5 separate regions of the Homo sapiens genome follow, and all the other regions are linked to region 1. Evidence: fine-mapped expression QTL. A gene starts in region 1. Each other region holds a variant in brackets. All regions are shown on one strand. Distances are from middle to middle.

Evidence for each region. PIP is the estimated chance that this variant, and not a neighbour inherited with it, causes the effect.
Region 2: its variant is fine-mapped to the expression of NRG1 in putamen (GTEx, PIP above 0.99). The same link has a PIP of 0.9 or more in caudate.
Region 3: its variant is fine-mapped to the expression of NRG1 in whole blood (INTERVAL, PIP above 0.99).
Region 4: its variant is fine-mapped to the expression of NRG1 in whole blood (INTERVAL, PIP above 0.99). The same link has a PIP of 0.9 or more in blood mononuclear cells.
Region 5: its variant is fine-mapped to the expression of NRG1 in whole blood (INTERVAL, PIP above 0.99).

Annotation. Positions count from the first base shown.
Region 1 is chr8:32,545,573-32,550,362 of GRCh38, reverse strand. NRG1 (neuregulin 1) reads right to left here and starts at 2,052. Exons shown (of 12, transcript NM_013964.5): 1 at 1,537-2,052. The coding sequence starts at 1,636.
Region 2 is chr8:32,632,636-32,637,425 of GRCh38, reverse strand. All of the region lies in intron 5 of NRG1 (neuregulin 1), which reads right to left. Among named protein-coding and RNA genes, the nearest start is that of NRG1, 87 kb to the right of the region's middle. RefSeq lists an enhancer at 3,476-4,675. The variant G/A (reference allele first, on the strand shown) is at 2,034.
Region 3 is chr8:32,583,996-32,588,785 of GRCh38, reverse strand. The region is part of intron 1 of NRG1 (neuregulin 1); the gene reads right to left. Among named protein-coding and RNA genes, the nearest start is that of NRG1, 38 kb to the right of the region's middle. The variant TATAG/G (reference allele first, on the strand shown) is at 2,624.
Region 4 is chr8:32,572,707-32,577,496 of GRCh38, reverse strand. All of the region lies in intron 1 of NRG1 (neuregulin 1), which reads right to left. Among named protein-coding and RNA genes, the nearest start is that of NRG1, 27 kb to the right of the region's middle. The variant C/A (reference allele first, on the strand shown) is at 2,262.
Region 5 is chr8:32,566,567-32,571,356 of GRCh38, reverse strand. All of the region lies in intron 1 of NRG1 (neuregulin 1), which reads right to left. Among named protein-coding and RNA genes, the nearest start is that of NRG1, 21 kb to the right of the region's middle. The variant G/T (reference allele first, on the strand shown) is at 2,200.

The DNA of each region.
Region 1 (4,790 bases):
AAGGACAGTAGACAAAGTCACGCAGGGAGGTAACTAATCCAGCTCCCCAATTTCCTATCTTGTTGAATAAAGTGCTATGGTCTCTCCCCAAAATATAGGGTAAAAATAAGGGAAAATTCAATACACCCTCATGAGGGGCAATGATCAGTAATTGAAGTGAATATGATCAGCAGGATCTTATTAAAGAAGCAAGCACAAGAATGGCCAGTGGTGAAACAATTACTCTCTGTTCAATTTCTGTTTTGCTCAAAACTCTGCTGAAGGTCTCTGCCAATAACCCAGGTTCTGAAATGCTATCAGTGATACCAGTAAGAAGACCAAGCAAATGTGGTTTGTTTTCTTCCAGCAAGGGACAAATACTTCTACAGTATTACTGTAGCCACAGTATTATCAAGTACTAGTGAATTAATTCTGCAGAAGTGCTTCATGAAATGTGTGTTGGGGGTACGCTCGAAGCGACTTAAGGCATCTGGATCAATTAATAATTGGGAATTGCAGAGGCAAAAAATAAATTCTCCCCCATCTCCTTCCTCCCCTCTTTTATCAGCTACCTACCAATCACTCATAAACAAGTATTTATTCGACATGCCTCTTTTGTCCAAGGTAATGTCCAAAGCATCAGCGCTTCCTAGGGACATCTAAGGTAAAGCTTTTGTTCATGCTCGTGTTCTGATGATGAAATACAAGATTTGTTTCTAGAAAGCTTCAATTGCCATTTTATTATATAGATAACCAGCAAACAATTGGGTTCAAAAATTCAGATAAACGGTTGTTTTCTTACATCTCTTGGGAAAGTAAATTATCCATATTTATCACAGAGGTCTTGAAAAATAGAACTGTTAAGCCAAAAGTTTGTAGAACTTGTTTGGGGCAGAGCTGATTCCTGACACTGGACTAGATTTCATCTGCTTCGCTGACCTTTAGGAATCCCTGCCGCTGCTCTTGAGTCTCCGTAGCACAGGACTGAATCAAGATGAACCGGCGCGCACTCTACATCGCTTGCCCTGTGCCCCAAAACGCCGAAGCTAACTTCCCACGCGGCCTCTTGCTCGACCACCCACTTCTGCGCTGCCAGGCACACCGAGGGGACCGGCTCTCCCTCCAGGCGGCCCATTCCAGCGTTTCCCGCTAGAGGGCACACGGCCCCCGTGCAAAGCGCTTATGGCGCGGGGCACGCGCGCACGCAGCCTCGACTCCTATAGCCCAGGTCCCACTCCCGGGCTGGGCTCAGCCGCTAAGGCGCTGGGGAGGGGCCGTGCCAGGGAGCGAAGCGCTCCCGGGACTCTGGGAGGGTGCGGCCGGGACTGCTGTCCCTTGCCCTGAGCTCTGGGCGTAGGCGCCCGGTAGGACTCGGCGCCCAGGTGAGCGGCGGCCCCCAGGAGGGGAAGCACCGCGCGACTCAACGGGCGCTCAGAGCGCAGGGCGAAGAGGACGGGCGAGGGAGAGGGGGAGGGAGAGGCCACGGCATCCGAGGAGGAGGAGGAGTAGGAGGAGCAGGAGGAGGATCGTGGGGCCCGGGCCGCGCTGCGCACCCACCTGGGCTCTGGCTGCCCGCCGCGGACTCCGGCTTCTTGCCGGAGCCTCGCTCCTTCTTCTTGCCCTTCCCTTTGCCTCTGCCTTCTTTGCGCTCGGACATCTCGCCGGAGACGGAGCGCTCTACGCGGACGGCTCTCGGCGCAGGCGAGTTTGGTCCAAGGGCTCGGATCGGGTTTGGGAAAAGTTTGTCCCTCGAGGGGGAGAGCGAGCGGCCGCGCTGAGGCGCTCGCGCTGCGCGGGGGCGTCTCCCGTTGCCTGCAGGGAGCGCGGCGCGGACGCGGCGGGCGGTCCGGCCACCTGGAACGGGCGCTCGCCCTGGCTCTCGGGGCTGCTCCTGTCGCCCCGGGAAGTCGTCGATGGGTCCCACCGCTGGCGGCTCGCGTCCTGGCCTCTGCCCGGCGCCCTCGCAACCCGATCGGGGAGAGGTTATCACCGTCCTGCTCACGCTCCCATCGTCCGGCAGCCGCCGCCGCTCAGCTCCTGGCCTCCGCGCGAGCCCGGAGTTCCAACAAGTTTCGGGGAACTCCTCGCCGGCTCTTTTTCAATTGCCCCGCAGCCACCCACCTCCCGCCCGCAGGTTGGAGGCAGGCGCCTCCTTCGCACCCTCCCCTGGCCTCGCCCCCTCCCTCTTCCCCACCACACCCCCACCCCGAGGCGCGGACACGCCACCGGGAGGAGCCTGGGCTCGGCGCTCCCGGGCGCAGCCCCTTTTCCTCCCGCGCTGGCCGGGCGGGGGGTGGCGGCGCGGCTGCCGGGAACCCCCGACAGGGGTCGCTGGACGCTGCGCGGAGACCGAGGCCAGCGCCCCGGAGACCCGGGAACCCAGGCGGAGACCCGAGGCTCTCGCTGCCCGCTCCCCTCCGCAGCCAGGCAGCGCCTGGGAGGGCTGCTCCGTCCCATTCCACGCGGAAAAGGACGGCGCAGAGAAAAGTTTGCGACTCCCACACCTGTGCCCCAAGCAGAGTCTCCGTGGTCAGGAACCCTGGGAGGGGTGCGGGGGGAACGTTGGTGGCTTTCCCAGAAGAGTTCGGGGTTCATTCCTTAACTCACTTAAGTACAAAAGCCCTGTCGCACGCAGGCGAAAATAAACTCTAGGTGGAAGGGAGTTTAAGATAAGGCTTCCTTCCAGGTGCACAGGAAGGGCTAAGCGAACCTTAAAGATGCTAGGTTGCGCTCTCCTGCTGGGTCTGCGCCGTGTGCGTGTGTGTGTGTGTGTGTGTGTGTGTGTGTGTGTGTTTAGTAAGTGCCTGTTAGAAATCTTCAGCTTTTCCTTAAAAAATAACCTGGCCTCTTCTAAGGGGGTGCCCTTAAACTACGTCTCTTACTACAACTTAATTTTCAGAGGAACTGATAAAAAACATAGTTCGGAGCACGACTCAGAATAATTAAAATTACTGCAGCCGCTGAAAGTCACTCAGTTCTGCCGAGTGGAAAAGCAGGCAGGGAGGGGTAGAATAAAGACACAGAACTGGAGATCCTTAATTCGTGAATGTGGGGTTTCTCAGATTCAAACTTTACTCAGAACTGCGCGTGAAACCTACTCCTTCCCTTGTCCTCCCTCTGGTGGAGAATTCTAAAGAGCAAGGAAATAAGAAGGCATTGACCCCTCCCCTGCAAAGGACAAAAGTTAAAGACCAGGGTAACGGGCACCACGGAAGGATCCAGAATTGTCTACATGTAGAGAAAACATTCTCAGAGTTATACCACAGCTGTGGTTAACTTAGACTCTTAATTTACAGTGAAATACTCTTGTGTTGTGGTCGGGAAGTGGTGAGTTGGAACAATCCATATTCAAAATCTATTGCTTCACTTTAAAAGTGACTTGCTCTTGGTTTTCCATTTTCTGGGGTCAATGCTAACTGAACCATTACCTACACACTACCTTCTCACGGTATTTTCTGATGGCCGCAATTTAAATAAAAGTGCAGTCTGGAGTGTCTCCTTGATATGTAGATGGGAAGGGAGGGAGGGAAATATGTTCACTTTAAAACTGTCCTAAAATCACACTAATTTTATTCTAGTTTAATTTGCACTGTCATAAGAACGAAACTCTGTTGAATGGGTTTAACTGTGGAAAGATATCCTAGCAGTCTTGCCATCATTATTTATAGTTTAAAAGTTTGATGTCCAAGTAGCTTCTGATAGCCTTCCTACAAACACCAAATATAAATTTCACTGGGCTATAAAGACAGCAAAAGCAGAGAAAAGATGATGAATATATCTCAGTAGCACTATTAATATTCCACAGAGACGTATGCAAGATGGAGTCTGAACACTGGCTGAAATAACTCTGTTTTCCCAGGAGGGGGCCACTGCTCAGTAAGCAGGAAATAGCAAAATTCAGAGAAGTCCTTTCAAAACAGATATTTTGTCCCAAGGATGTGAGACAGCATAAGGGCTTAGTATACACTACCACATATTCTCTAACATGGCATTATGTTAGAATTGAAGGACTGAAAGCAAAGATGTATTCTGGGATTCTTTTTTAAAAAATAAGATTTTCCCCAATTAAAAAAAAGAAGCTCAAAATCCATTTCTATGGAAATGTTGTAATTCTGCTACTTTTGTTTAGGGTCTGGATGTTTTGCTTCAACAAAACAGCTTACTGGTCATTTTTAGAGTAATTTTTCAGTGAGATAGGGGAAGAGCCTACGATTTTGTGATACATTTTCATTTGAATGAACCTGAAGAGGTAGTTGACAGTCTTCCAAAATTAAGCATACATGACTACAAAAGAGATTACAGATACTATGGTGGCTTTAAGATAAAACGTAAAAGCAGGATTCCTACAGGAATTTTAGGGCTGAGGAATGAATGAATATGAAGGGAGGGAGGTGAGTATAAATGAGCATTTAATAATTGTTTTTCCTTGGTTTGATGTGATGGAGGGGAAAAGACAGGACAAAAATTGCAATGATAAATATTGAAGGGACTTTAAGGAAAGATGATGAAATGGCAATTGCATGACAACAATCCTTTCTGGAACCATATCCAGATTCTCGAGTTACATTTTAGTTATCACTTGTAGCTGAATTCTCAGGAAATTCAAGGCTCAGTCCAAAAAGGTTTTTTTCTAAAAATCGTTAGGTCTTTATGTTATTTAATGTTAATTTTAAGGGGTTTTATTACATTATTTATGGCCAGCTAAAAGATTAACCAAATAAATGTCCATTTCTTGGACAGTTAAAACATTTATGAGATTTATCAAGAATTTGATATTGTCCTTAAATTATTCATCTCTGTGGTCAGGAGTA
Region 2 (4,790 bases), 87 kb before region 1:
ATATGATGACTAGAAAACCCTCGGTCCAAATATGGTGGCTTATTTGAGAGAAACATATATTCTATTTGATAGCATAATCCATGACCTACATGTTCTCTTAAACAATGTAATAAAATATATATACTATGCATGCTGGGATATTTGGGGGTAAAATGAACTCATATATACAGGAAATTTCATCAAAAATAAAAAGTTGATAGATAAATGGGTAGACACTCAGTAAGCAAATATAGGAAAATATTAACTGTAAAATCTTGGTAGTGGGCATAAGTTTGTTTACTGAATGATTAATTCACCTTTTCTCTATGTTTGAAAATTTCATAATAAAATGCTGGAACTTTTTAAAAAATTTTTCATGGTGTTTCTGGGTTCATATATGAAAGGAGCCTATCTTGATATACTATAGTAAGTTTTATTATAAAACTCATTACCTATGCCAAACAAACAAAATAATCCACCAATGCTACATTTAGTAACCTCCACTTGCTTATTTTTTTCCTTCTCTGCATCATCCCCCAGCCTCCACCCATCACTACCTCTTTCCCCTACTACTTTTATTTTAAGGAATTGATTTTTAAGATGAATTTCAAAATTATATCAAGGGTAAAAGATTCATATAATTTTAACCATTATCTAATGACAATGAGGTATCTTTATATGGCAACCATTAATTGCTATAGAACATCTAAGAGCTTTTTCTGTCCCCCTCCCCTCACCCAATACCATTTTTTTATTGAGAAGGGATTTTCCTTAATGCTATACTTCGATCCCTGGGGAATTAGAACATCTATGAATAATGTGACTTGAGAAAATGTAAAGTTCACATTACTGAAAAAATCTGAAAGGTTAGATGCTAAGCTTATTCTGTTGAAATCAGTAGAATCCTTGGGTTATTCAGGACGCTCCCATTCTGAACACACCTTTTCCAGTGGTCAACTGGTCAGTGGACCCTAAGGCCAGAGGCTCCAATGTGAAGGTTGAGCTTCTCTGCTGCTGGATTCTCCACCCAGTGATTCACACAGATATTTTATAAACTATTAAATATGTATGATGCAGTACAAAGCCCCTCTAAAAGCATCCGTATTTAACTAAATCATGTCCCTGACAGCAAGAGGCAGGCAGAGCAATTTAACCTAGCAGGAAAAGTACTTCTTTTACAAATTACTGCAGTGCAGAGCTTCAACCATATGCTTCTTTTTGCCCCCACCCCCTGCGCCCGAACACATCCAGTAAGAAAGGAACGGCTTAACTTAATTTGTTTGAAATGCTTTTAGATAGGATTCTAAAACAAAACATAAGTCTTTAGAAGTGTTTCTCAAAAATTTTACCACCTTAAGGCTTTGCCACTACTCTGTCCCTAGAGATCAGAGAAATAACCCAGCCTCAGGTTAAGTCTCCTTAACTTGGGGTTAAATACCTGGAATTAGCCCTGTCTCTTCTATCATGCTCTTCCAAATGTCTACTGCTGTTTACTGACTGACATCAAAGGCATCTAAAAAGTATCAATGTACACCTAGATCCCCCATATTCTTCTCTTTCACCCTAAAAAAGATTCAAAGAAAAAAGTTTTGGATGGAAACTTCAGGGCACATCAAAAGTTAAATGATTGTTACCCATTCACAACCTAAGGCCAAAGAATCTAGTGAGATAAGAAGAACCAATTAAGCAGTTTTCCAAGGTACCTAAGCATTTGGCAATGCAAAAGAATAGCAGAGGGATCTCTACATTTTTAAAAAACTGCAATGACAATGTAAAACATTTTTAGAAATCTCATGCACAGAATTAACTGTGCTCCCAGAGACAGGTGGTTTTACAATAACCTGTGGTGGGGGAAAAATGTGTTGAATGAGTATAAAAATAACTAACTTACTGTCAAAAAAAAAAATCAGGGCTAAATGCTTGAATTGTCCAACTCAAAATGAAATGGCATGACTGTAATTCAGCCAACTGATCAGGAAATGTGCTGTGCAGCATTGAAATGAACTTCTTTTCACAATCTGGCAGGTACAAAATGGAAAACCTCAGGATGACCT[G/A]CTTTTCAAAAGCAGTAGATTTCAAATTTTAAGGTCACTGTACAGGGTGTAATAAAAATAGCTACCATTTCCAAAGACCTAATCTGTATGTTAATTTACTTAGCTACCCATCCACCTATCCATCCAAAAGATGTTTACTAAATGACCGTATCTGTGACAGGCATTGTGCTGGGGTTTGTAGATTTGGTAAGAGGACATTAAAATAATTTCCATCTTATAGTTTTCCTTTTCTTCTAAAGTAACAAGTGCAATCTGCAGAAAGTGAAGGCATGATTTGAATTTTTAGAGTGGTAAGGTCCGAGTCACCTTAGAAAATGGAAGAGAAGCCTGACTGTGAAAAACAGAAACAGGTCAGACATTGTGCCAAGTAATATATATACATCAGTTCTTATTTATAATCTTTACAATCAGTATGCAAAGTAACTGATATTGTTCTTATTTTACAGATGGAAAAAGTGAGAATTTAAAAAGATGCACAGATAACCCACAATTACATAGCTAGTAAGTGGTGAAGCAAAGATTCAAACCATCTGAACTTCAAAAGCCATTTTTTTCTGTACCACTGTACAATATCTTTATACTGATACAAAGTATGGAAGAAGACTTTCAAAGCATTTTTTAAAATCATCAATTACATAAGAGATCATTGTTTTTGTTGTTGGGCTCTACAATAAAATTTTTATTTGGACTTACACAAGACTCAACAGGAGGAACAGAGAACAAAAGAAGAAAACAAAAAGTGATGATGAGAATATACATGTTCACATACATATTACAGTTTCTACTTTGGACAGATTTATTTCTCCGATCAGTTTAGCTTTTTCCAACACCAGGATTTAATGTGGAATATTAGGTTGTCAACTTAATTATGCTATGTGTCTTAAGTCTGGCCATGACGAAACCAAACCATTTAAATGATGTTGCTAGTAAGTACATGAATCAAAATAATTTAACATACTAAACAGTATGATGGCCCTCTGTTGCATAATTCTTTGAGCATCAACAAGATGAAGGAAGAAGGCATGCCACAAACTCAGTTTAGCAGAAAAATGTGATTTCTCTCTTTCATTTTTTTAAGAGTTTTAATCAGTATTTGAAAGCACCATACAATTACAGCAAATTAGAAATTAAAATAAAATGAAAAGGGAAGATCAGGTCAGTAGTTACTGTTTCCTCTGCCACAGATTTCCCATTTATTTTTAAGAATGTATGCTTTTTCAAAGTTTTTCCACAGACATTCTAGGTTGATCCTGTCTCTGCTGCTTTATGCAACCTTTTTTTTTTTTTTTTTTTAAGACAAGATCTTGCTCAGCCTCAAACTCCTGGGCTCAAGTGATCCTACTGTTTCAGCCTCCCAATTGGCTGGGACTACAGGTACATGTCACAACACCTGGCTAATTTTTAAAATTTCTTTGTAAAGATGGGATCTCACAATGTTGCCCAGGCTAGTCTCGAACTCCTGGCCTCAAGCGATCCTCCTGCCTCAGCCTCCCAAAGTACTGGGACTACAGGTGAGAGTCGACTCATCTACAGACTACTGCTCCCGGCCTTAAGCAACTTCATTCGTTCCTTCAGTTATTTTTTTAAGCAAGTGCCTCATATGTACCAGGACCTACCCAAGACTGAGAGAAAGAGGAAGGAAGGCACTGGGGAAAGAGATTGCAATCGTTTCTGCTTCTGTGATATTTAAATTCTAGTGGAAGATTTAGTTTTCCTAATCTTAGGTGGGCACAAAGGCAGACTTCAGAAGTAAGAGTCCATAGTCTTATAATGGATTCTATTTGTGCAGTTGACACATAGTGGAGTCATTCTTTTTTAATGAGCCTGTCAGGAAACACTGTTTATTGTATATGCATGTCTAAGTATCTGAAATTTTCCTTCACTCCGGATCCAGTTATGGAAATGTTTTCTTCTGATAGTGTTTTGTTTGATTAGTGATAGAAGAAGAATGCAGAATTCAATTCCAGAAGGGATCATGCCCAGGCAAGAGGCCTTTGGAGGTACTGGACAATTACAAGCAGAAAAACATAATCTGTCTGTTTCCATTCTCGGTAACCATCAAAACAAAACAGCCACAAAAGCAGACTAGGCTGTCGTAGTAATTTAATGATTGCATTTTTTTAAAGCTGTTGTCTTGATTGTTTTTGGTAGATGGATTAAAATAAATAAATAAAAGAAAGCATTAATACAGTTTATTATTATCTTTTTGATGAATTGAAGCCTTCTTATTTACTGGTGATACCAAAGCACAATTTTAAAGTACAGTTAGTCAGATTTCCTGAATTGTTAAGGAAATGTGTTAATTTCATAGAAATTCTAAAATATCAGCATAAAAAAGTAGTCAAAAATCAAAGAGAAAAAAATGAATTACATGCATATAGATATATATCTGATTTAAAAATTTGTTGCTTATAGACCCTGGGTTAATTAATAAGGAAATTCTACAGGAATCAAAGAAATAAGTGTTAAACATTTTGACTAAACATGAGTCCTGATAACAACCCAGCTCTGCAAAATCATTGGCATGTCAAATGCTAACAAGGATGAGAATGAGTTTTAGAATTAAACTTACAAGCTATCATCTTTCTAAATGAATGAGCTGCTCAGAGATGAACTGATGGTAACTAAAGAAATCAATAATAAAATGATCAGGATGAACATCCTGTATCATATTAGAAACAATTTTCCCTTCTTTCAGTTAATTCTGATGAAAATATACAAGGCTCTAGAGCAACAAGTTTCTCATCAACATCTAAA
Region 3 (4,790 bases), 38 kb before region 1:
GACTCTCTTTACCACTGGCAGCAAACTAAATCCAACCAGCAAACACACTGGGAATAGGCTTCAAAGTAGGGTTAAGATGGCTGGACTCTGGAAATTCCATTCTAGCAGTTCCATGTCCAGCTCCTTATGTAATCCAACGATGTGTATATGAACTACTGAATAATTTCTTTGCAAGCACATAACATGCATAGAACGTTTCATTATACAACATAAAAGAATAAAATTGGGGGCAGTATTTCAGCATTTTATGCTAACACTCATCACAGTGGTGCCACTACAGCCAGAGTTGGCTTCTTACTAGTGCTTCATTTTGATTTCCCAAACATATTGGTTTCCTTTGGTGGGGGATTTTACATACGGATGTCCTCCAAGTTTCACTTCTCACAATTAACTGCTACACGATGACTGAAACAGTATGATTCTTTAAGATATTTGATTTGAGGGTATGAGCCACAATCAGCTCAGTTAAATAGAATGCTTATGCTAAGGCCATTGAAGATGATTAATCAGATTCTCCATCTGAAAACCATACTCAACTGACTGCACTTAAAAAACATGTAGAGGGCTGGGCGCTGGTGGCTCATACCTGCAATCCCAGCTCTTTGGGAGGCCGAGGCAGATGGATCACTTGAGATCAAGAGTTCAAGGCCAGCCTGACCAACATGGTGAAACGCCATCTCTACTAAAAATACAAAAATTAGCCAAGCATTGTGGCACACATCTGTAATCCCAGTTACTAGGGAGGCCGAGGCACGAGAATCATTTGAACTGGGGAGGCAGAGATTGCAGTGGGCACACCACTGCACTCCAGCCTGGGTGACAGGGCAAGAGTCCGTCTCAAAAAACAAAACAAAACAAAACAAAACAAAACAAAAAAACCCACATGTACAAACAGAGGGCCATTCAAGGAATTTATCCCTACGAAATCAAACAAGGGTCAGCAAGTTAATAGCAGGGGGTCACAGTCTCTATTTGGAGGGTTAGGCTATTTCCTGACTGTGTATGTGTCCATTTGGATTGATACTATACCTAAACATCAAAATTTCTGAATTTATTGAATGGAAGATATACAGGATCTCAGGCTCTCCTAACCCAAAGTAGGACTTCAAGTGTCTGCTGAAAGGATGAGGAAGAATCTGGAAGATGCTGACAAAGAAGAAACCCAGGTACAAAATGATTCCAGAGGCCCCATCTATCTTCTCTATGACTTTTTATTATTTGGAATCGTGAGGCCCTGTGACATTGTTTGTGTTCTGCATGCCACTGGGCTAGGACTCTTATGCCGCTCTGCCATCAGACACTAACAAAAATGACATGTAAATCTAACTGGAAAATTGTCAAGTAAGTCGTATTATCTTTACTTTGAAGTTTTCATGTTCTGTATTTCTCTTATCTGGCCATCACTGTTGGAGGACTCTCAAACTGGACCCTGCCTCAGCCGAGACCCTGGTCATGTTCCTTGCTAGCTCATTTATTTCACCTAATTTCAGAGTCTACCCAGAGTGGTCAGACGGTTCTTGTATTATTGCAAGAAAAGCACATTACCTTCTCTGCTTTAATTTTTTTTTTTTGGCGGCAGAGTCTCACTCTGTCACCCAGGCTAGAATGCAGTGGTGTTATGTGATCACAGCTTACTGCAGCCTCAGAATCTTAAGCTCAAGTGATCCTCCTGCCTTAGCCTCTCACATAGCTGGGACCACAGGCACAGGCACACACCACCACGCTGGGCTTTTTGTTTTGTTGTATACAGAGATTCATGTTGCCCAGGCTGGTCTCAAACACTTCAAGCAATCCTCTTCAAGGAATCCTCTTGCTCTAGCCTCCCAAAGTGCTGGGATTATAAGTGTCAGCCACCATACCTCCTATGCCCTCAAGTCAAAGTTGCTCTTCTCCATTGATTGACCATGGTCTACAAGATGCTGGTTTGCTCCCTTAACTGTTAATGTGCCTTGTTGTCACTACATATCCGCAAAATTACTATTTGGTCAAATCTCCTTTCATCTGCAACAGTTCTGGTGTGTATTTCATGTAAGGTACCTAATGATTGTTTCCATTTACAGGTGAGGAGATGGAAACTGATAGGGGAACTTAATGTCGTAAGTCTAACAAGTTGCAGAACCAAAACTTAAACCTAGGACTTTTTACCATACCTAGTTTTTCTACAAAGTTTGAAGTGGAGGCAGAAAATGGAGAGAAGGACAGTAGATTAAAAATCTGGGAAAGATCACTCCATTTCATAGCCACTACAGTAAATTTTTTGTTCTTATAATGAGCTATGTAAACCAAATCACCTCTCCACATTTGTCTGTGAGAAATTTACAATACTGTAAAATTCTACAAGGGAAAATGAATGCAGGTTTATTAGGTGAGATAATTTTTCACCCTGATAATTGAAATTAGTTATTTATTGAAATTAGCAATCTCTCTTTTCTATACAGTTCCTTGCCCTGTACTTCACAGTTAGGGACTAAAGATAAAAATCTTAAAACAACTATAATGTATTTCCAAAGCCTATGAGATGAAGTTAAATAAAGTCCTTTTTATTTACAGTATATTTATATATAGTATATATAGTAGAATGTAATGTATACATATACACATTATATATATATATATATATATA[TATAG/G]TACTTTCAACAATAAACACCTTTGAATAATAATAGCTGATACTTGAGTACCTACTATGTGCCAGGCATTGTTCTAAGAGCTTTATGCTCATTAACGTTTTTAAGTTTTATGATAACTCCAGGAGATATGTATTACTGCCATTATCACCAACTTACAGATGAAGAAACAGAAACAGAGAGGTAAAGTAACCTGTCTATAGTCACACGGCTGGTATACTATCAAGTCAGTATCTGAACCCAGGAAGTTTGACTCCAGAGCCCTGGCTCTTAACTACCAGACAATGTGCTAAAGATTTTATTTAATGATCTATCAATAGGGTCCATATTTTCCTCACAAAACCTGGGATACACCACATGACATTATTTCTGCACTTATTCCACGTGCAAAAGACAGTCTGAGAAATACAGTAGATATGCAAAATTGCTGAATTTTCTGAGCTACTTGGATAATTGATGGGGAAATAAAACAAGGCAATACTTGCGATTGGTGTTAAAATAATTCTTTTGAACTATGCAGCTGTCTATCTGTCATATGCCAAATGCCACAAGGGTGAACAGTGCTGTATCTCACTCCTGTGTTCACTGCGATGTGATAACCCCCACGTGAGGATACAGCAACAAAAGTGGCTTAATGGATTAATGTTGTTCTTTCGAGGTGTAAAGGCAATACACCGTGACAATGAATGCTGGAGCAAATCACTGCGCCGCGGCCAGCAGCTGGAAGGTAAGTGTTCAGCAGGCCTGCCTAATTGATTCTGTCACCACAGCTGCCCCTAATTATAAGAACATCTCACTCTCGGACATAAAGATGTCCAGCAAGCTTCACTGAAAGCAATCAACTCACAGGGTTAAAATGGATCCAGTACAGTTTTACCTAATTGATGTGTAGCAAAGTTCACATGACATAAGCTTATAAATATGATTTTTTCCATTGTCATAAAACAGGATTTTTTTCTTATGCATTATACATACCAGCCATATTCACTTCCAAAATGTTAAACAGAAAAACTGAGAAACATCTAGTTACTAAAAATTAAAAATATATTTACTTATTTTCTTATTGTCAAGTTTTTTTCTGTTCTGATGTGTTTATTGCTTAGGTAAAGTTAGCACATTAACATGATTTTGATATGTTAATATTTGTCTTTATAACCATTTCTTCTTTGCTCAAGTTGAATTACATTTAATTCATGCCACTAAAATTCTCTTTTTTATTTAAAGAAATTTACTTACATGTTCTAAACTAAATAAATTCCCAGGTAAGATGAGTTAGCAATTGATTATAATTAGTTTTAAACAATGATAACTATGTGAAAACTTTTAAGCAGTGCATATAAATGAACAAAGTCCCTGATTCATGATCTAAGAACATTAGTTCCCTATAATCTATTTTTCACATAGCCATTTAAAGCTTATTCCTTCTGTGAAAAAGAAAAATTTTAGCAGAGCTAATTCTGAAACAAATGTGTCCTTTCAGGACTTCTAAAATCTGTTTCTTTGTTATTTAGTCAGATCTCCTTTCTTAGTAATTATGGCTTTCTGATTTTTTCATTTTTGTCCACAGATGACTTATTAAAGAGAATGATACTAAAACCTTAGTACCTGCCAGGATTGAAAGCCTTCTTTACTCGTTGAGGCCTACAATATCAAAGTTAAATTTCTCTCTTCTCTGTTCACTACAGTTTTAAGTAAGCAACGCTGCATCCCTTCTTCAGCAGGGTCCACATTTGACTTTCTAAGGACCTTTAAAACCTCCTTGCACTCTTAAGCAGGTCCATGGACAACCTAACGATTGAATTCTTATCATTTTACTTCTACCCCACAGGAAGATCAGGGAAGGCAAATTCCTTATCTTAGGGTTCCCAGTGACATGAATTTGCTGAAGAGGTGGAAAATAACCAAAATCAAATTAAACAGATTGTTGACAGTAAGAAACCTGGTGCTACATTATTCTGTGACTACATTCTGTGGCCACTATAACTACAAGGCTGCTGCACTTTCCCGTACTGTCCTCCAAAGTCAAACCGTATGATGGAAGTCAGTGCCCTTTGGTCTCATAAAACACACAAAAAGAAATCCCAATAAGAAAGAGTCCAAATAGTCTCCCCTATTTTACAAAAAGCATAAATTCCTTAAAGAATCTTTTGAAAGTGAAAGTGAGCT
Region 4 (4,790 bases), 27 kb before region 1:
TTGTTTTGTCTTGCTTTGTTTTTCCCAAAAAATGCAAGCATGGAGTTACAGCAGAAATGTCTGTGGCAGGACAGGGACCTGTCAGTGGTGTTGCAGACAACTTCCCCAGGCCAGAGGTTCCCAAACCTATAACTGTATACATAAGTCACTTGAGCAAGTTTACTAAAATGAATATGAAATATTCATGGAACCCATTGAAAGACTCTGATTCAGTAATTCAGAGAAAAGCCTAACAATATGCTCTTTTACATGGAATCAACCTAGGTGCCCATCAGTGGTGGACTGCATTGAGGAAATGTAGTATATACACACTGTGGAATATCATGTAGCCATAAAAAGGAATGAAACTGCATCCTGTGTAGCAACAGGGATGCAGCTGGAGGCCATTATCCTAAGCGAATTAATGCAGGAACAGAAAACCAAATACTCCATGCTCTCACTTATAAGTAGGAGCTAAACATCAAATACTCATAGACATAAAGATGGCAAAAACAGACACTGGGGACTACTAGAGCAGGGAGGGAAGGAGGGAACAGGAGTTGAAAAACCAACTATTGGGTACTATGCTCAGTATCTGGGTGATGGGATCATTCGTACCCTAAACCTCAGCACCACGCAATATCACTCATATGACAAACTTGCATACGTAGGTTGAATATAAAATATAAGTTGAAATTATTTTTTAAAATAATATAAATATAAATATAAAATATAAGTCGAAATTATTTTTTTAAAAAGAGAAAAATATAGGGAAAAAAGAATCTGCCTTTTAAACAAAAGCATCGCAGGCGATTCTCATACAGGTGGTTAGTATGGGCACAACTTTCTCATAAATATTACACTGTGCCAGGGGCAGCCCTCTCCAAAAGTTATATGGCATTTACAGAGTTAATGTCCACCCCATAAAGTCTTTCCAGTAAAAATGTTTTGTTTTGTTTTTTTAAGAAAAAATGTTTAAGATTTATTGCCCTGGGTAAATTATAGGGAATTGAGACTTAATTTCACTTCTGAAAAAATTCAGAATCTTGTAGAAAGAGACAAATGAAAATTATGGTTCAATTGGCATTGGGATAGTTATCTACAAGGCTCAAATTGTTAGCACTCATATTCAAAATAATAGCCAGGAGTCAATACAGGGTTTAAAAATTATTTTTTAAAAAACAAAAAAAGAAGAGAAAATGAGGGAAAGAGAATCAAATATTCCAAAAAGTTTCTCCTGAGCTAGACACCTCCTTCCATTTTTATGTGTCATGTGAGATGGACTATTCTCTAAGGGCTGAAAGTAATTTCATAATATTTAAACAACTGATTTAAAATAATTACATTATTTGAAAATTGCTAAGAGAGTAGATTTTAAATGTCCTCACCACAAACAAATGGTATGTGAGATGATGACACGTATGCTAAATAGCTTGCTTTAGCCATTCCACAGTGTATGCATATTTCAAAACATCACGTTGTATACCATAAATACATACAATTTTGTCAATTTAAAAATTAATTAAAAATAAATTTTAAAAAATAAAACACATATTAATCAGGAACACATTTATTTTGGAGAATTCCTATGAAGGTTGCTTGAAGATACTTTTTTCCTAAACTTTAGAGCTATGTAAGACAAAGAACCCATTTTAAATTTGTGCTTTCTATAAGACTAGCATATCTGGGTCCTCAGATTTAAATGACCAGATCTAAAAAATAACAGTTAAGAATTATAAAAGGTGTAAGAACTGCCATTCCCAGACCAAGTTTCACCCTTATTAGAACATTCAAGCCTTACATTGGTGTCACCATTTAATCTTTACAAGAATACTCTCTCAAAATTTCCTACTTTATACTTATTTTCTAGGTAACCATGAGCATTAAATGCCCACAGGGATATTATTATCTCCAGTGTAGATCTCTACTTTAAGATCCAGACTTTGTTAATGTTGCTTGTCTTAAAAAGTATAAATATCCATGCAGTTGAGCAGTCCTAAAATACAACTTTTCCTTTACTCATGCCCTATCTCCAGCCCACTACAAAGTTTAGTTAATTTTACTACCACCCACCCCCACTTTCCCATCCCCAACCCTTCCAGGAAGGGAACTTTTATAGTATTAGGCAATAAGCAGAGCCGATGAACTAGTAATTAGTCAACTATAAAGCAACCACAAAAGTAGGAAAGAAGAGAAAGAAGAAGTAGGCCAACCACAAGGCAATTGAACATGAAGTGAGCTAAAACATGCATCCTAGAAAAAGAGGAAGTAGCCAAGAATGA[C/A]ATATCATGAAGAATGGCAATGCCTATCATGAATGTCTATGCCAGAGGGGTATGTCCAACCAGTATGGACACTAAGACAAAGGTCAATTGTGAAACCTGGGGAAAAATCTGAAGCTGGAGTTAGAAGAAGAGGTATTCCTAGGGAGCAAGGAATGGGATTTATGATCTGCTGTTCAGCTTTATTCTATGTTTGGCTTTAGATTTGTCTAGGGTTTACTTCTGTTCCTGAGTCATCTGGAGTTCCCTGAAAGCAGAGAACTCCATGCTTTCAAGGTTGAAGCATAACTGATTCTCTCACAATCTGGCATTCTGAACAGGATTGAAGGTTCAGAAATTCTATGTACTAACATAGGAGAGTTAGGTGGCAAAGCTGTAGTGTAAACTCTATGAAACAAAGATTACACATTGTGTTAGGCCATTCTTGCATTGCTGTAAAAAATAACTGAGACTGGGTAATTTATCAAGAAAAGAGGTTTAACTGGCCCACAGTTCTACAGGCTTTACAAGAAGCCTGATGCTGGCATCTGCCAGGCTTCTGGTGAAGCCTCAGGGAGCTTTCAATCATGACGGAAGGCAAAGGAGTAGTGGGGGACATCACATGGTGAAAGCAGGAGCGAGCAAGCAAGAGAAAGAGAGAGAGACCACACACTTTAAAATGACCAGATCTTAGTCATTATCATGAGGACAGCACCAAGGAATGGTGCTAAACCATTCATGAGAAATCCACCCCCATGATCCAGTCACCTCCTACCAGACCCCACCCCCAATATTGGAGATTACAATTCAACATGAGATTTGGGTGGGGAAAAATATACAAACTATACCACACAGTGATCTGATCAAGCACTGAATTTGAGATTTCTTAGAATTATATATTTGGGTAAGTTTATTAAAAGCCTTTTGAAGACCTGATGAAATGAGAGAGGGAAATGAGGCCTGGAGAATGTAAAATTAGAGACATAATTACGGAATGTCTCACCCACTTGGAATTTGAATAATTGCATCTACCCAACCAGATTAGTAATGTATAAAATCTTCTATCCTGTTTAAATTTGAGAGGTTACAGCATTATGCTCCTAAGATCTTTAAAAGGTCATGCTGCTATAAAGACACACGCACATGTATGTTTATTGCAGCACTATTCACAATAGCAAAGACTTGGCACCAACCCAAATGTCCAACAATGATAGACTGGATTAAGAAAATGTGGCACATACACACCATGGAATACTATGCAGCCATAAAAAATGATGAGTTCATGTCCTTTGTAGGGACATGGATGAAGCTGGAAATCATCATTCTCAGCAAACTATCGCAAGGACAAAAAACCAAACACTGCATGTTCTCACTCATAGGTGGGAATTGAACAATGAGAACACATGGGCACAGGAAGGGGAATTTCACATACCGGGGACTGTTGTGGGGTGGGAGGAGCGGGGAGGGATAGCATTAGGAGATATACCTAATGCTAAATGACGAGTTAATGGGTGCAGCACACCAACACGGCACATGTATACATATGTAACAAACCTGCACATTGTGCACATGTACCCTAAAACTTAAAGTATAATAATAATAAAATAAAAAATAAAAATAAAAAGGCCTTTGATAAACTTACCCAAATACATAGTTCTAAGAAATCCTAACTCAGATTCCTAATGAAAAGACAGAACTGGCTGGAGAACATAAGCAACGCCAGGTAAAGAAAAATTGAATATTGCTACAGCAAATGGTAAGGATATATATTTTATGTCAGGATATTGGGATAATAGTATCTCTTCAAGGAATATTATAGAGCAGAGGTCAGCAAAATACGGCTCATAAGCCAAATCCTGCCTACCATCTGTTTTTGTAAATAAAGTTTTATTGGAGCACACTTGCATTCATTTGCTCATAAATTGTCTGTGGCTACTTTTGTGCTACAACTGCAGAGTTGGGTCTCTACAGAAATGTTTGCAGATCCCTGTTATCGAGTCAATAAGTCATCATGGAACATCTGTAGAATTTCATCTAGCAATAAGTATTGGCAGGTTTCATAAAGACAGACAGCAGAATGGGAATAATCCATGCAGGGTCTGCATTTTGAGGTCTATGAACAAACTGGATATACAGAGTAGAATATTCAGAATGTTATCTGAGAATGCTAAGGGAACTAGAACCCCATTCAGATAAGGAGAAGAAGCTAAGATATACTTACGATAAATGTTGCCATTACTCGGTTCAGGCAAAACATTGTTTGCAAGTGGGGATAGGATATACAGATTAGGAAAAATGGTGGCGAAATTAACCTCAAAGTCAGAAAATAAATATGTCGCAAATTTGTAGATTAATATATTATTTGATATTTATTTATTTGGTGTGTATAATTTTATTTGATGATGATTTCCTTCTTTGAAAAAATGAGATGACAGATTCACCCAAACTGTGACTTTGTAGAAACCCTTGGGTGAGGACAGTTATCAGACAGAGGAAATGAGGCCTGTAGAATGTAAAATTAGAGACATAATTATGGAATGTCTCAACCACTTG
Region 5 (4,790 bases), 21 kb before region 1:
TCCTTGTATGCACATTATTTATAAAAGAACAAGTGAATTTACAAGCATCCCAAGCTGCAAAGGAACTAAGATCCTAAAACATTTCTGGTGAGTAAGGAATGCTAAGCAGAAATTAGTAATAGGGCCCGGCATCCATTATTACTAGTTTCAAATGTAGATGTCATGTCATTGCTGTATCTTTAATTTGGAGCACTGTCTTTATTGTTTTATGTTACTGGCTATAAAAATATTTATGAAGACTATAACAAGTTCACTCCTAACTTCAATCCTCTTAACCCACCTTTCCCACCATAGGCTTTTCTAGGACCTAACCAGGCGCAGTTCATGTGGACATCTATATACATGTTGCCCATATATTCACACATAAACTATGCTCTTCTTTCATACATAATATGGAATAAGGAAGGCACTTTTTAGAAATTTGGCTCAGATTAACTTTCTGGGCATGACAAACTCAGTGCAAATTCATATCATTCACCTACACTCCTGTCTGTTACCAATACCCTATAATCATAATTCATATTAACATAATTATCTTAGTATTGATTACCTAAAATATCCATAATCATCAATAATTTGTATCAATACAAAATAATGTATGTGACACTTTATCTTAAAGAAAGGGTCCTTTCAAAACAAGAGTTGATAACAAGGACTTTCAGAAATTAGGACTTTCTGAAGCTGGGAAATACACTGAATGTATGTATTTACATACATTTGAAAATATTCTGATTTTTATTCATCTTAACAAGCTTAATGATAGAGTGGAGCAAACCACTTATTTAGAAATACCATTTAAATTTTTTCTGATGAACTTGATGAAGTTCAAGTAGTGGACAACACCAAAAAAAATATTTAAAAGCAGGCCCTTTCTTTTCTGAAGTTTTTATATATAAGTCAGAGTTTTATTTAAAAGTACTTCCTAGCATCTTTAGAATATAAGCTCTCCATGGATAAGAATCATGTCTGTTCTATTCTCTGTTTATTTCCAGAACCTAGCACAATGTACAGAATGTATTAGGTACTTAATAATTATGTGTTGAATAAATGAATGCACAAGCTTCCTATAAGACCTAAAATAAAAGGTTTTTAAAAAAGAAACAGCAGAACATGCATGTTATATAGAAAATATAAAGATAAATATCAGAGGCCAGGAGCAGTGGCTCACGCCTGTAATCCCAGCACTTTGGGAGGCCAAGGTGGGCGGATCACCTGAGGTCAGGAGTCCGAGACCAGCCTGGCCAACATGGTAAAAATCCCGTCTCTACTAAAAATACAAAAATTAGCCAGGCGTGATGGTGTGTGCCTGTAATCCCAGCTACTCAGGAGGCTGAGGCAGGAGAACTGGTTGAACCCAGGAGGCAGAGGTTGCAGTGAGCCAAGATCGCGCCACTGCACTCCAGCCTGGGAGACAGAGCAAGACTCCATCTCAAAAAAAAAAAAAAAAAAAAGATAACTATCAGAAAAAGAATTAACTAGAATTGTTGAGAGGGCTTGTTTTTAGGAAAGAAAACTAGAGATGAAAACGGATGGGAAAAGGAACTGATGCCCACCCCCAAGGTAAATGTTTTACTTGTGTATGATTGTTTTAAAAAACAATGAGCTCACAATAATTTAATAAAAATAAAATTTTATTTAAAAAATGGTGATTTCTATACAAGCCTGTATTTCTGATAAATTATGAAAGAAAGCCAGAAGCAAATAAACTGTAATATTAAAGTGCAGAAAAGAATAAATGAGAAAAGAAAGTACAAGTGCTTCCCTGGCAATAAAGACAGTTTTCATATAATTTTTTTCAGACAGATACCAAGTATAAGTCTACTATATAATCTTTTCTTTTTTAAAGGAGAAAATAGACAGAAAGTTAAACAAGTAAGAGTATAGCTTTCTACTGAGGCAATCCCAGATAAACTGAACTACAGTATCACTAAAGTGAACCATCAGAAATGTACGTATACATGCACACACAGTACGCACAGCACACACACTTCAAGAATCATCTTGGCCTGGCCAGGCACGGTGGCTCATGCCTGTAATCCCAGCACTTTGGGAGGCCAAGGTGGGCGGATCAGTTGAAGTCAAGAGCTCAAGACCAGCCTGGCCAACATGGCAAAACCCCTCTCTGCAAAAAATTCAAAAATTAGCCAGGTGTGGTGGTGTGCGCCTGTAATCTTAGCTACTTGGGAGCCTGAGGCAGGA[G/T]AATTGCTTGAATTTGGGAGGCAGAGGTTGCAATGAGTCAAAATCGTACCACTGCACTCCAGCCTGAGTGACAGAGCGAGATGCTGTCTCAAAAAACAAAAAACAAAACAACAAAAAATGATCTTGGCTGATTTCGGCCTTTCAATGTAACTTACTACTTCCACAGGGTAGTCTGAAAAACTTTTTTTTTTTTTTCCATTTCAAGGATTTTCATTTTCACATGGCTCTTGGATGAATTACTTTTGTTCTTATTTATAATCTTTGTTTGTTTGTTTTATTTCTCTGTACTAACAAGATATTGCCTGCAAGTAAAAATTTGTTTTGACACATTTGCTAAAATTATACAATCACAGCAAGTCTCTCAAACCTAGATACTATTTTCAAAGATCTCTTTTGACTTACTCAGGCATGCAAACTTTCATAGTGAGCAGGATTCTCTGCAGGCATGATCCTAAAACTTTGGCGAACATTAGAATCCCACAAACAGCTTATTAAAACACAGGATGCCGGGCCCTATCCCGGACAGCTTCATTCCAGGAGCTCTGGGGTGAGGCCAGGGGATTTGCACTACCCACGAGTTTCCAGGTGATGTTGATGTTGATTTCACCCAGCAGAAGAATCTCTTACTAAATGTCTCCTGGTGTTCTAACTTCTATCATTTGAAGTACTTGGATATATTCCCAAAGCATATCTCTATCATCCATCATTTGATAATACTTGAGTTTTTAAGAATAAGCCTGATGATTTTAAATTTCTTTACCTAAATTTAACTTAAAGAACTAGTGGAAAAACCAAAGCAAACTCCAAAATCCACAGTGTAAAGCATAAAAAGCTCAAAGAGATTCAGTGAGTTAGCATTCTCTTGAAGACAAAAGTGATAACAGCTCACTTGGAGGAAACTTCAATATTGAAACGAGCACTTCGAGATTTATGGTGTATTTTAGACATGTAGGAGCAACTGTCAAGAGAGAATGAGCTCTATTGCAAATAAGTGATTCCCAAGCAGCGAATGACCAATCCCCTCCCATTCATATCCTAACCATATTATTTTCTGCTTTAATAATACTTAGGCCTTAAGAATAACGGAAACACCTGGAGTTGATTTTAACACTACTTTCTAGCCCAGGGAATGGTCCAAATCCCATCAGGCTAAATCTCACCCTTGACCTGCCAAATATGATTACTGGAGTCCAGTCACTTCCCTGCATTCTGCAGCTGTTCTTCCCCCTTCTCCCTTCATAATTATCACATCTACTTCTCTGCCCAGAACTCTAACAGCAGTAAGAGCACACACTGCCAATTCAAGTGGAAAAACAATTTCTTCAATTGACACTCCAAAGCAAAGACGCTTGTGTTGACCTCTTCTGCCAACTATTTGTCTAGGCAATGCACACGCCTTAAGACACTTCAAAGGCACTTTCATTGGTGATGGCTTGAAGCAGGCACTGCTAGGGTGAAACAGCAACTTAAGAGTGCCAGGGCAATAAAACACAACAGTTTATATAAAAAAGAAGTGAGGGGCACCCAAAGTTTTTACGTCCCAGACAAGGCAGAAAGTGAAGTTCCAAACTCATCTACATAGATCCAGTGGCATCAGATAATGGACCACCAGGCTGCAACACTCTCCCTGCCTTGGCTATGGGACTTTGGTCAAGTCATCTAACAACACATCATTTTACTCTTGAAGGCTAAGCATCAGACTAGGCCAGAGAAATTTCTTTTTTAATCTAATTTTTGATGCATTGGCAAAACCTGGTTTCTTCTCTTGTAAACTTGGTAGCAACCACAGCAACTGCATTCAGTGAGATTTACACCTTGTCAAATTTTTCTTAGCCATATTTTGCCCCATTTCATTGAGATATTTAGGATTAACACATTGACATTTTGGTTTATAAAGTCCATCCCTTCCCCACTTGAGGCATTTCTTAGAGATCTTCTTTCTCAAAATTGACCAGATATAAACTTCCTTAGATTCTGAAGGCTAACAAAACCAGAGTCAATTCATCCAAAGAATGCTACTGGCCAGGTGCAGTGGCTCATGCCTGTAATCCCAGCACTTTGGGAGGCCGAGGTGGGCACTTGAGGCCAGGAGTTCAAGACCAGCCTGGCCAATATGGTGAAACCCCGTCTCTACGAAAAATACAAAAATTAGCCGGGTGTGGTGGTGCCTGCTTATAATCCCAGCTACTCAGGAGGCTGAGGCAACAGAATCGTTTGTGGAGGTTGTAGTGAGCTGAGATCGCGCCACTGCATTTCAGCCTGGGCCACAGAGCAAGACCATGTCTCAAACAAAACAAAACAAAACAAAACAAAATGCTACTTTCTGAAAATCCCTAACTTAGGTACTCTTCAGATCAACAAATTGTTTCTGAAGCATTAATATTTTCCTAACATTTTTAGCTCCTTAATGACTAATGATTCCTCTTCCATTCCTGGAAGGTAAGTTTCTCACAAGAACCTCCTGGCTGGAAACAATTAAAAGTGCTGAATGAAATATAATAAACATCACCTTAAAAGAATTTGACAAAAAAGATCATTTTTTGGACAAATTCTAAGGCAAATCTCAAACCTTAGAGATAGACGCAAAATAC